Linked DNA regions of Homo sapiens. The protein of the gene in region 3 purifies or fractionates together with the protein of the main gene of each other region. This does not show direct contact. Each region holds a gene or a part of one and is shown on either strand. Other genes may lie near its edges.

Region 1 (3,370 bases), on a different chromosome or scaffold from region 3:
TGAGAGCCACCTCTTTTCCCGAAGGCCCAGGTTTATTCTAACGGAGTGCCGGGCTAAGGACCCAGCCAGCATGAGCTGTAGCGTGACACAAATCCAGGGATCAGCTGTCCCAATCTCCCACATTCCTCTTTCACAATCACTCAACAAACAGGTCACACATCCCCTAGGTCCACGAACTCATCTTCTCGTTTGGCCAAATCGTCTTCATCTCCCAAAGCTTTCCAGCCACTGGTGGGTAAGACGGGCTTAGAGGAATGTCGCTGGAGCAGAGCGAAAGGAAACAAAGACGAGAGGCGGGCAGAGTTCCTCAGCAGGCAGGGGGCCTCAGCCTGGGGGGCCTGCTGGCTGTGGTGTCTCTCGTCGATCTTCTCTTGTAAACTCTGGACTTCCTCCATCATTTCCAAGAGTTTGCTCAGAGTGGCCACTTGGCCACCACCTAGGATTTGGGCTTCTGGAATCCAACGTAGGTAGCGCTGGGCCCAGACTTTGATTTCGGGCCCCTCGATATGCGGTAACAACAAACCATGGTAGTCAGTGGACTTGCTATGCCAGCTGTCATAGAACTCTCGAAAGTTGTCTTGGAGCTCATCAGAAGAATTAATAAGTTTGCTAATTCTCTTGCCCAGAAGGTTTTTAATTAAATGATCTGTTTCTTCCCTGAAAAATCCTCTTTTGGGAGATGACTTAGATTGTGTAAGTGGCAAAGAAAGTTGTCGTTGATGCTTTGAGAGAAAACACAAATAAAAATCACTGGTTAACATAACAGGCACAGTTAACAGCTGTTACCATAACAAAAAGAGCATAACCCTGCTTTAACAAGTTCCAAGAGACATCAGTGTTGCCATGTGAATGCACACTCATTAACACGCTGTGACATCCAGAGGTGGGGTATTCCTGTGTATTGCCATGGTGCACACTGTACCAGAAACAAATGGGGAAGCAGGTGCACGTGGCAGCTGTGCAGAAAGGCATGCTGGGACACAGAGAAAGGAGCTTTTGGTGCCCTCCTCCTCTGTCACAGGGGCACCACAGGACACAAAGCACTTCTGAAAAAGCTGTTTAACTTAAGATAGTTTAATGATTTAGGGGAACTTGTGGGTCAGGCCCATTCATGTTCTAAAGGGAAAAAGATGTTTCTTCTTTGAGAACTTTAAGGCTGTTAACCACTACAATCTTCTGAACAACTGCAAGGAGGCACTGCTAACTACCAGAAGATACTATCACATGGGTGAAATAGCAGCTTATCAGGCATCCAGTGGGAGTTTAAGCCGAAGTCATAAAGATTCTTTTAGATACAGAAAACAGGCAGGTGAGAGCAAAGAAATGTGATGAGCCAGCTAAGCTGACCAGACTTGTCTGGCAACCTGCATGGAGTAGAAAATGGGAGAGCATTTTCACATTTTCATATTTCCCCCCTTGGTCATTCTCTCTGTGGCCAGAGCAGAGTATTATATTTGGGGGTGCACTGAGAAAGGGTTTTGAGGCTGGGCGCAGTAGCTCATGCCTGTAATCCTAGCACTTTGGGAGACCGAGGCGGGCAGATCACCTGAGGCCAGGAGTTCAAGACCAACCTCAACCTGGCCAAAATGGCAAAACCCCATCTCCACTAAAAATAGAAAAAATTAGCAGGGTGTGGTGGTGGGCACCCGAGGCTGAGGGAGGAGAATTGCTTGAACCCAGGAGGCAGAGGCTGCAGTGAGCCGAGATCACGCCGTTGCACTCCAGCCTGGGCAATGACAGCAAAACTCTGGCTCGCAAAAAAAAAAAAAAAAAAAGGGTTGTAAAAGATGGATGTGGTCGGAAGGTCATGAGGGTTCCCCAGTGCCCAAAGCAGAAGTAAAAACATGTGGGGAGAAGCTGTTTGTCCAGCTCTTTTGCTACTGTTCATTTGAAGTAAGAAGAGATAACAACTTAATTTTCAGGTTCACTCTAAAACTCTCTAACATATTTCCATCAATGGTTCTTCCTTGTAAAAAGATATTCTTTATTGTAAAGAAAATTATTTCCTTATTATGAAATATGGAATAACAATAAAAATATTAAAAAGAAAACAAAACCATCCACAAGACCACAGCTCGGAGGTGACCAGGATTTGACTTTCCATCCAGGGTCAGGAAAGATGAAGGCCAGGATTCAGTGGCCTCTCTTTTTCTCCATCGTGAAGATGTGTCAGGCAGGGCAGGGACTACACTGAACCACCACCCAGTGCTTCCTGCCTGCTCGGTTCTGTGCTCAGTACTCACATTCACTGAGCACCTCATTCTCAAAGTCACTATTATTGCCCCACTTTACAAGCAAGGAAACTAAGGCACAGAGGTAAGCAATCTGCCGAAGGCACTGCTGCTCAGTGCCAAAGGTGGTTCAAATAGTCTGGCTCCAGAGCCTGGGCTCTCTACTGAGCTCTCCTTGGTCCTGGAAGCCCCCTTCTCTCTATCTCCTAAGCAAAGGGAGCACTCAAGACCAGCTGACATGCCAGCAGCTCTGCAGGCCAAAGCCTGGCCCGGGCCTGCGGCTGACACCGAGGCTGCACACTGGAATGGGTCCCCCCCACCGTGTGGCATTTGCACGGCAGCACCACATGCTGCTCAGCCCCTGCTTCCTCAGAGTCTCTGCAGAACTTCCCCCAGGCCACCAGGCCGCTCAACACATTGCTCCACCTGATATCTGGTCTTCTTACCCAAAGGCTTCAAGGTTTCTTGTCGCCCCCGTCCCAACTGTGATTTAGCTAGTGCAACCTGAAATTCTCCACCCCTTCAGCTCAGTCCTTTCCCACCTGCCAACTCCTGGAGCTTAGGCTGTCTGTCCCTATCTCCCAAGGAAAAGAGATGATTAGAAAAGCTAGGTCTGAGGAGAGAAATGAAATCCATTATTGGAAGGGGGAGCCTTAGGTTCCTCCCGTAACACAACAGACGTTGTCCTCGCTGTCTCTGAGGTCCCCTGCCACTCTGGCACAGGGCAGTTTCTCTGGTGCCAATCCAGCTCTCATGAGAATGTGCATGCAGCCACCAGGGGGCACAACACACTGAAGAAAAACCAATTTCTGGCCAAGCTGTTCTGGGGCTCAGGGCAATTCTGGTTAAACTGGCAGAAGAGGCTCAGCCAGAAAGGGGAAACTCCACCCTGGGCCTGCGGCCCCTAAAAGGGCAAAGTGGCCATTCTGAGTCGTTCAGCAGCCAACATCGTCTCTGCTGGCCGTGGCTCACCCAGGTCCCCAGTCCTCTTTAGAATGGAACCAACTCTGACACCAGAAAGGGCCAGGCTTTCTGAAGCCCTCCAGATCAGGCAGGATAAGGATGGCATGGAGAAGGCAGTGACACACATCGACTTAGACTTACCATCACTGCTCTCTCCTTTGTGGACTCTGTGGGGG
Region 2 (3,654 bases), on a different chromosome or scaffold from region 3:
ATCTCTTTTAAAAAACGCAATAATTAGGAGGCGGGCGGATCACGAGATCAGGAGATCAAGACCATCCTGGCCAACATGGTGAAACCCTGTCTCTACTAAAAATACAAAAATTATAGCTGGGCGTGGTGGCAGACGCTTGTAATCCCAGCTACTTGGGAGGCTGAGGCAGGAGAGTTGCTTGAACCTGGGAGGCAGAGGTTGCAGTGAGCTGAGATCATGCCACTGCACTCTAGCCTGGTGACAGAGCGAGACTCCATCTCAAAAACAAACAAACAACAACAACAACAACAAAAAACAACAAAACCCAATTACTTTGGTAGGAGAATAAAAGAAGACAGACTGAAGATAGGTGGGTTGGGTAGCTGGTACAGTAATCAAGATCTAAAGTGAAAAAGGGCTGTATTTGGGAAGTGGAATATTCTCCTCCTTGATAGCAGTTTTTACAACCTACTTTAATTTTGCTTATTTATCTGTCCTTTACTAGACTTTAAGATCTTTTAATATAGGAGGCTATTTTGATGACCTACGTCTTAGTTATTAAGAAGTTTTAGGCTGGGTTTGGGAGCTTATGCCTGTAATCCCCGCACTTTGGGAGGCCAAGGCAGGTGTATTGCTTGGGCTCAGGAGTTTGAGACCATCTTGGGCAACATGGCGAGATCCCATCTCTACCAAAAATAGAAAAAAATAGCTGGCATGCTGGTGTGTGCCTGTAGTCGCAGCTACTCAGGAGGCTGAGGTGGGAGTATCACTTGAGTGCAGGGAGTGGAGGTTGCAGTGAGCAAAGACCACACCACGACACTCCAGACTGGGTGACAGAGCAATACCTGTCTCAAAAAAAGGGAAAGAAGTTTTAATAATTACGGTTAAATGAATGAATGTTTTTATTTTATATGTGGCTGAGTTTTAGAAACTTTGTATTACACTAAGGGTTGTCCTAAGAATCTTGTTAGTTCAAGAAAATAAAATCTTCATGACTTTACATAACTGGATTCCATGAAGACCCATTCCTTCTTTTTCCTTTTACTATTAATAATATAGTAACTGTTTACATATATATATATTGACTTTGTGCCAGCCAGTGAGCACTTTATATATGTTATCCCATTTAGTTGTCAGTAGTATGATTTGCTGCATAGACTATTTGTTTACATTTTAGTAATGAGGAAACTTAATGAGACTGATTTGTCCAAGGTTACAGAGCTGATAAGGTAGGCAAGACCTAATTTTCTCTGGCTGCAAAAGCTGTGCTCTTTTCCACTGTATTAAACTGCTTTATATCTTTGAAATCAATCTCCCCCTCCCCTTCCCCTTCTTTTTAAGCTTGTAGTTTTATAAATGGCTGTGGTTCTCCAAGTTTTTTGGGAGGTCGTTTGGAATAGTAATTTTTGACTTGTAGGTTGTACCCTTAACTAAATTCTTTAGGTTGGCACGTTTATGGCCTTCTTCAGAGGTCAGACAAGAAGTATGATGAAGCCATTAAGTGTTACAGAAATGCACTAAAATGGGATAAAGACAATCTTCAAATCTTAAGGGACCTTTCCTTACTACAGATTCAAATGCGAGATCTTGAGGGTTACAGGGTAAGTAAAATAGAGACTTTTTTTTTTAATTCTAAGGGGAAAATATGTACAACTTTGAGTACTTTCAGATACATAAATTTTTTATTTCATTTTGAAAATAATTTAATTGAATTTTTTTTTCCTCCTACCACAGTGGTTATGTTTATGATTGGAATAATCAGATCTTTAAAAATAAATTATTTTATGGTGAGGCAGATTTGGCCTACTGTGTAGGGTTGACTTAATTTGATAAAAATTAACATCAGGCCAGGTGCGGTGGCTCACGCCTGTAGTCCCAGCACTTTGGGAGGCCCAGGTGGGTGAATCATGAGGTCAGGAGATCGAGACCATCCTGCCTAACACAGTGAAACCCCATCTCTACTAAAAATACAAAAAATTAGCTAGGCGTGGTGGCAGGTGCCTGTAGTCTAGCTACTCAGGAGGCTGAGGCAGGAGAATGGCCTGAACCCGGGAGGTGGAGCTTGCAGTGAGCCAAGATCACGCCACTGCACTCCGGCCTGGGTAACAGAGCGAAACTCTGTCTCAAAAAAAAAAAAAAAAAAAAAAAAAAGAAAATCAGTACTCCTCAAATAAACAATGCCTTTGTCTAGTATTGACATGTAACTCTAACATTTACTTCCCACATTTTTCTGGAAAGCAAAACAAAAAAAAAATTTTTTTTTTCTTGGAGACATTAGAGTCTCACTCTGTTGCCCAGGCTGGAGTGCAGTGGCATGATCTTGGCTCACTGCAGCTTCCACCTCCTGGGTTCAAGCAGTTCTCATGCCTCAGCCTCCTGAGTAGCTGGGGCTACAGACATGTGCCACCATGCCCAGCTCATTTTTTATATTCTAATAGAGATGAGGTTTCACCATGTTGCTCAGGCTGGTCTTGAACTCCTGAGCTCAGGCAGTCCACCCCACCTTATTCTCCCAAAGTGCTAGGATTACGGGCATGAGCTGCTGCACCTGGCAAAAACAAATGTTTTGTTTCTTCTTTCTACCTCCACTGACTCTAATATATTTTTGTAGCTTCGATTTTAACCCTTAAATTAGTGTTAGATCTATTTAGTTCCTCTTTCATATTCTTTCCTCTTTATGTATGTTAACTCTGTAGTTGGACACTTAATTTTTAAAAACATTTTTGAATATTTTTCCTTTGTGCTGTTCTTTCCATCCTGCCTCTTTTCTGGGACTGAGCAGATCAAGAAATAAAGAAGGGTCTTAAGTTTGGTCTTAAGTTTTAAAAACTTAAATCTGGTCTTAAGTTTTAAAAAAATTCTAAGATTAGCTTGGAGGCTTCATTATGTTCTTAACAAATATTTCTTTGCCTCCATAAAGCTACACAATATGGATGTTTGAAGTATTTTCTATTATTGTTCCCATCATTGTGTTGTAAAATGCTTGGGGTTGTGGGATAAATTAATGTGTGTTTTTTTTTTTTTTTTTTGAGACGGCGTCTTGCTCTGTTGCCAGGCTGCAACCTCTGCCTCCCGGGTTCAAGTGATTCTCCCGCCTCAGCCTCCTGAGTAGCTGGGACCACAGGCGTGCACCACCATGCCCAGTTAATTTTTGTATTTTTGATAGAGACGGGGTTTCACCATGTTGGCCAGGATGGTCTCGATCTCTTGACCTCGTGATCCACCCGCCTTAGCCTCCCAAAGTGCTGGGATTACAGGCGTGAGCCACTGCGCCTGGCCTAATATGGAGATCTTTTAAAGGAGCACTTGCTGTTACTAAAAGCCTAAGAAAAAGTGTTTATTTTTTTCCTTTTAAAGGAAACGAGGTATCAGTTACTTCAGCTTCGACCTGCGCAGAGAGCATCATGGATTGGTTATGCTATTGCTTACCATTTATTAGAAGATTATGAAATGGCAGCAAAGATTTTAGAAGAATTTAGGAAAACACAACAGGTAATAACTAGAAGCCATTTTACTAAGTCTGATCCTAAGTATAACTAAAAAAATAATGTGCATAGTCTGGCTTACTTTTAATTTTGAAATAGTTTCAAACTTATAGAAAAGTTGCAGGAATAGCACAAAGAACTCTACATAGGGGTTCATTCATACTAAACTAATTGTTAATATTTGGTGCAT
Region 3 (3,654 bases):
CTGTCTTTAACAAACATTCTGCAGCATTTATGTCCATTAAATCTTCATGTGTGGTTTAAGGGTTATTCCTGAAGTCTCTAGATCACATGCTCCCAAAGTTTTTCCTGTGCTTCTTATTTTGAGGCTCATATTACCCTTGTAAATACTGCTTTCATACATGATTTATAGTTATTATGCATCTTAATAACTTATCAATTTTAAAATGTTGACATCATCAGACTGTAAGCTCTGCAAGCAGAAAGCCTACAGTTCCCACAACCAGTTCCATGCTGCGTATCATCATAGGTACCTGGTAAGTAAGTGTATTGCTTAATATCCAAGTGAAAAACATTGTTATATTTGATCATGCAAATAAATACAGGTCACAGCACTGTTTGTAATGGTTGCATAGTAATCCTTTTTAGGGATATTCTATTTTTCACAGGACATTTAAGTGGGTTCTTTTAACTTCACTATTGGCCCATTTGTCTCATTTCTTTCCTGGAATTGGAATTTGGAGGAAAAAGTATGTACATTCAATTAGCAGCAAAAACTATTCAGAGTGTAATTCATATGTACTAGAAATTCTGCTAAGTGCTTTACTCATATTATTTTATTAATCCCTTCCAGAGCCCTACGGTAATAGGTACTCTCGATATCTCCAGTTTACAGATGAGGAAACAACATTCATCTTATCACAACTGGCTAATCAGTGGTACAGTCTGACTTCACAGCTTGTGCTAATAATCATTCTACATTTGATACCTATTATCAAACTAACCTCCAGAAAGACTGTCCCAGTTTAACAGTTTGATCAGCAGTGTTTGTTAAAAGAGTTCCTATTTCCCTACAATCATACCCATTTGGAGGATGTGCTTTGTCATTTCTTTAAAAATAAGTAAATAATTAATTCCTGGTCCATTTTACTATGGGTGAATAAAAAGATACCAACCAAGATATGCCACTTCTTTCCAGCACAGGCCCATTTCTTTTCTCCATTCATCTACAACTGCTAGCTTGTCTGATACACTGACTTCCATTTTGCAATCCAGTTTTAAAGAAGACAGCGTCTGCTTTGAACAGGCCCTTTCTGAGATTAGCCTCACCTTAAAAAAAAAAAAAAAAAGGATTGGAGGAAGAAGGGAAAAATTAAAAAGTGAAGAAAACAGAAATCTTTCATAATAATTGACCTTGTAGACAGTCCAAATCACAAACGAGTCATCTTTTGACTTTCTGAAGGTCCAAGTAAGAAAACTGACTGTCGAATTAAAATCATGATGCTTTAAAACAAAGCTCATTTTATTTCTCATAGCCCAATAAAGGTGAGACACAGTATTTTATTTTCTACAATAGAAAGGATTCTATCTACAGGTAAAAATTACAACATATATTGTCTGATACTACTCTAAGATTCTCCTATAATTCAATTTATCCAGAGGAAAGTCTATAACCTCTCTCTTGTGCTGCTTAGCAATACATATTTAGGATTTCTGGTAAATTATAATTATCTTAGCTAGCTTTCATTTAAAAAAATACACTTAAACGTTAAGTTATTTTGAATCAAAAATGTCATTCATAAGAATAAGCTAGATTTTAAAAATCCACAGGATATCGTCCTTTTCTAAAATGGTACACCTATTATCTAGGGAATCTTTCTTGCTGCAAGATCCTTTGGGAAACATTAGATAGCTCCCATTTAAAAGTAGTTATGTTTATATTTACTGAATAAACAAGAAATATTATTTGCTGATTAACAAATTCCTAATTCTACTCATCTAAAACTAAATAGTATAATAATTTTCTAGGCGTATGAAGGCCAAATTTCAGATATTTTAAGAGTTAATACTAAAAATTTAAATCTCTTAATTCCTTGCATGTTCTTTGACCCTGAATCAAAATATTATAAAATACTGCTATATTCAGGGAGCACATACCTCAATACCACTTTTCTTTAATAAACTTATCCCAATAGCATCTTTTACATCATAAGATATTATTTCTTTTTGGTCTCCTGATACATAAATGTGGCCATTGGTGAGACATCCATCAATATTGCAAACCAAAAGTTTTATTTCCTTAAGCTTCTCTTTGCCAAAATAGCCATATCTAAAAGAAACCAAAATAGACCTTTGAGTACAAGTGCAGTACTAATCACTCCCTCTCATCTGGCTAAACCAATACATGAAATGTCACCCTCCATTCAATTATTCAAACATTACTCTCCAAATTTACTTCACATATATATTTTAACATATAGTACAGTAAGTAAAAGTAGTGTGGTCTAGCCAGATAATGTTTCTCACTTTATTGAAGCCATGTAAACACATATTTTACATGTCTTCCTCACATGAACAAAGTAATTACAAAGATCCTAAGATGTCTGAAGTATCAGAAATCAGTATCTAGAAATATAATTATTAAGATTTAGTACAAAGGTTATAAAGGTTTATTTGTTTTTACCTTAATACTCTTTGCTCTGCAATAGGCCAATCAATATCCACATCTATATCCACACTATGTTCAGCTCGCATTTCGTAGTATGCCATTTTTCCACCCTAAAGGTAGTATAAATGTCATGAATACTGTTTTTAATATTCATTCACATATATCAAAACTTTATTATAATACAGAACAATGAATTCATTTCTACAGTACTGAGAAAAATGAATAACCCAGTAAAAATCAGTCACATAAAAATGATTTTTAAATTTATTTTTACTTTTTTATTTTTTCGAGTCAGGGTTTCACTCTGCCTCCCAGGCTGGAGTGCAATGGTGCAATCATAGCTCATTATAACCTTGAAATCTTAGGCTCAAGCAATCCTCCCACCTCAGCCTCCTAAGGATCTGGTACTACAGGTATACAGCACCATGTCCGGCTAAATTTTTAAAAAGTTTTTTGTAGATATAAGATCTTGCTATGTTGCCAAGGCTGGTCTTGGAAACCTGGCCTCAAGCTATCCTCTTGAGGCCTCAAGCTGGCCTCTCAAAGTGCTGGGATGACATGCTTCAGCCACCACGCCCAGCTTTTTTTTTTTTTTTTTTTTTTTTTTTAAGGAGAAAGCTCACACAAAAGAAATAACCTTAACATTTTTCAAATTCTATCTAAACAGTTCAAGTTCCCTATTTAAGAAAATTTCTATTTTAATATTGAAAAAAGCAGAAATATTACATCCTCCAGGTTTCTGACCACAAGGGATTTTGTGGAAATCCCTTAATCATATCCTCCTTTTTTTCAAGAAGTCTCTCCTGTCATCATCCAAAAGCAGTATTAAGGTTTTTGGAACTTCTGTTCTAATTTGCAACTAACAGGCAACACAGGGGAGGAAAAATAACTGTAGCATCTGTTGTACAGAGTTTTCTTAGATCTCTGAGCTACTGATGAAAATGACTAATAGTCATCCAAGTCACATGCAGGCAAAGGCAAGGGCAGTCTCTTGATTCTAGGCAAGGGTCAGCAAGAGAAAGGGTCTTTCTTCTGATAGTAATTATTTGAATGACAAGATCAATTACTGGACAATTTCAATTTCATTTTTTTTTTCAGAATTGTCAGTCTCTTCATAAACCTTGTTTTAATGAGAAACATTTTTCTCCACACTTTAGGAATGGGTTAATCATGGTCCTCCTTAGAAAAAAGCTTAAAAATGGTAGTATCTATGTGTGTCAAATCCAATTT

Evidence for each region.
Region 1: the proteins of CMAS (region 3) and MTMR12 fractionate together in Homo sapiens (co-fractionation; one large-scale study listed by BioGRID). This does not show direct contact.
Region 2: the proteins of CMAS (region 3) and NAA15 fractionate together in Homo sapiens (co-fractionation; one large-scale study listed by BioGRID). This does not show direct contact.

The regions. Positions count from the first base shown.
Region 1 is NC_000005.10:32,229,626-32,232,995, forward strand, and holds part of MTMR12 (myotubularin-related protein 12), read right to left. Parts: intron 723-3,370; coding exon 153-722; 3' UTR 1-152. UniProt on the Homo sapiens protein: Acts as an adapter for the myotubularin-related phosphatases. Regulates phosphatase MTM1 protein stability and possibly its intracellular location. By stabilizing MTM1 protein levels, required for skeletal muscle maintenance but not for myogenesis.
Region 2 is NC_000004.12:139,339,490-139,343,143, forward strand, and holds part of NAA15 (N-alpha-acetyltransferase 15, NatA auxiliary subunit), read left to right. Parts: intron 1-1,422; coding exon 1,423-1,580; intron 1,581-3,336; coding exon 3,337-3,471; intron 3,472-3,654. UniProt on the Homo sapiens protein: Auxillary subunit of N-terminal acetyltransferase complexes which display alpha (N-terminal) acetyltransferase (NAT) activity. The NAT activity may be important for vascular, hematopoietic and neuronal growth and development.
Region 3 is NC_000012.12:22,059,712-22,063,365, reverse strand, and holds part of CMAS (N-acylneuraminate cytidylyltransferase), read right to left. Parts: intron 2,535-3,654; coding exon 2,440-2,534; intron 2,086-2,439; coding exon 1,914-2,085; intron 1,086-1,913; coding exon 932-1,085; intron 1-931. UniProt on the Homo sapiens protein: Catalyzes the activation of N-acetylneuraminic acid (NeuNAc) to cytidine 5'-monophosphate N-acetylneuraminic acid (CMP-NeuNAc), a substrate required for the addition of sialic acid.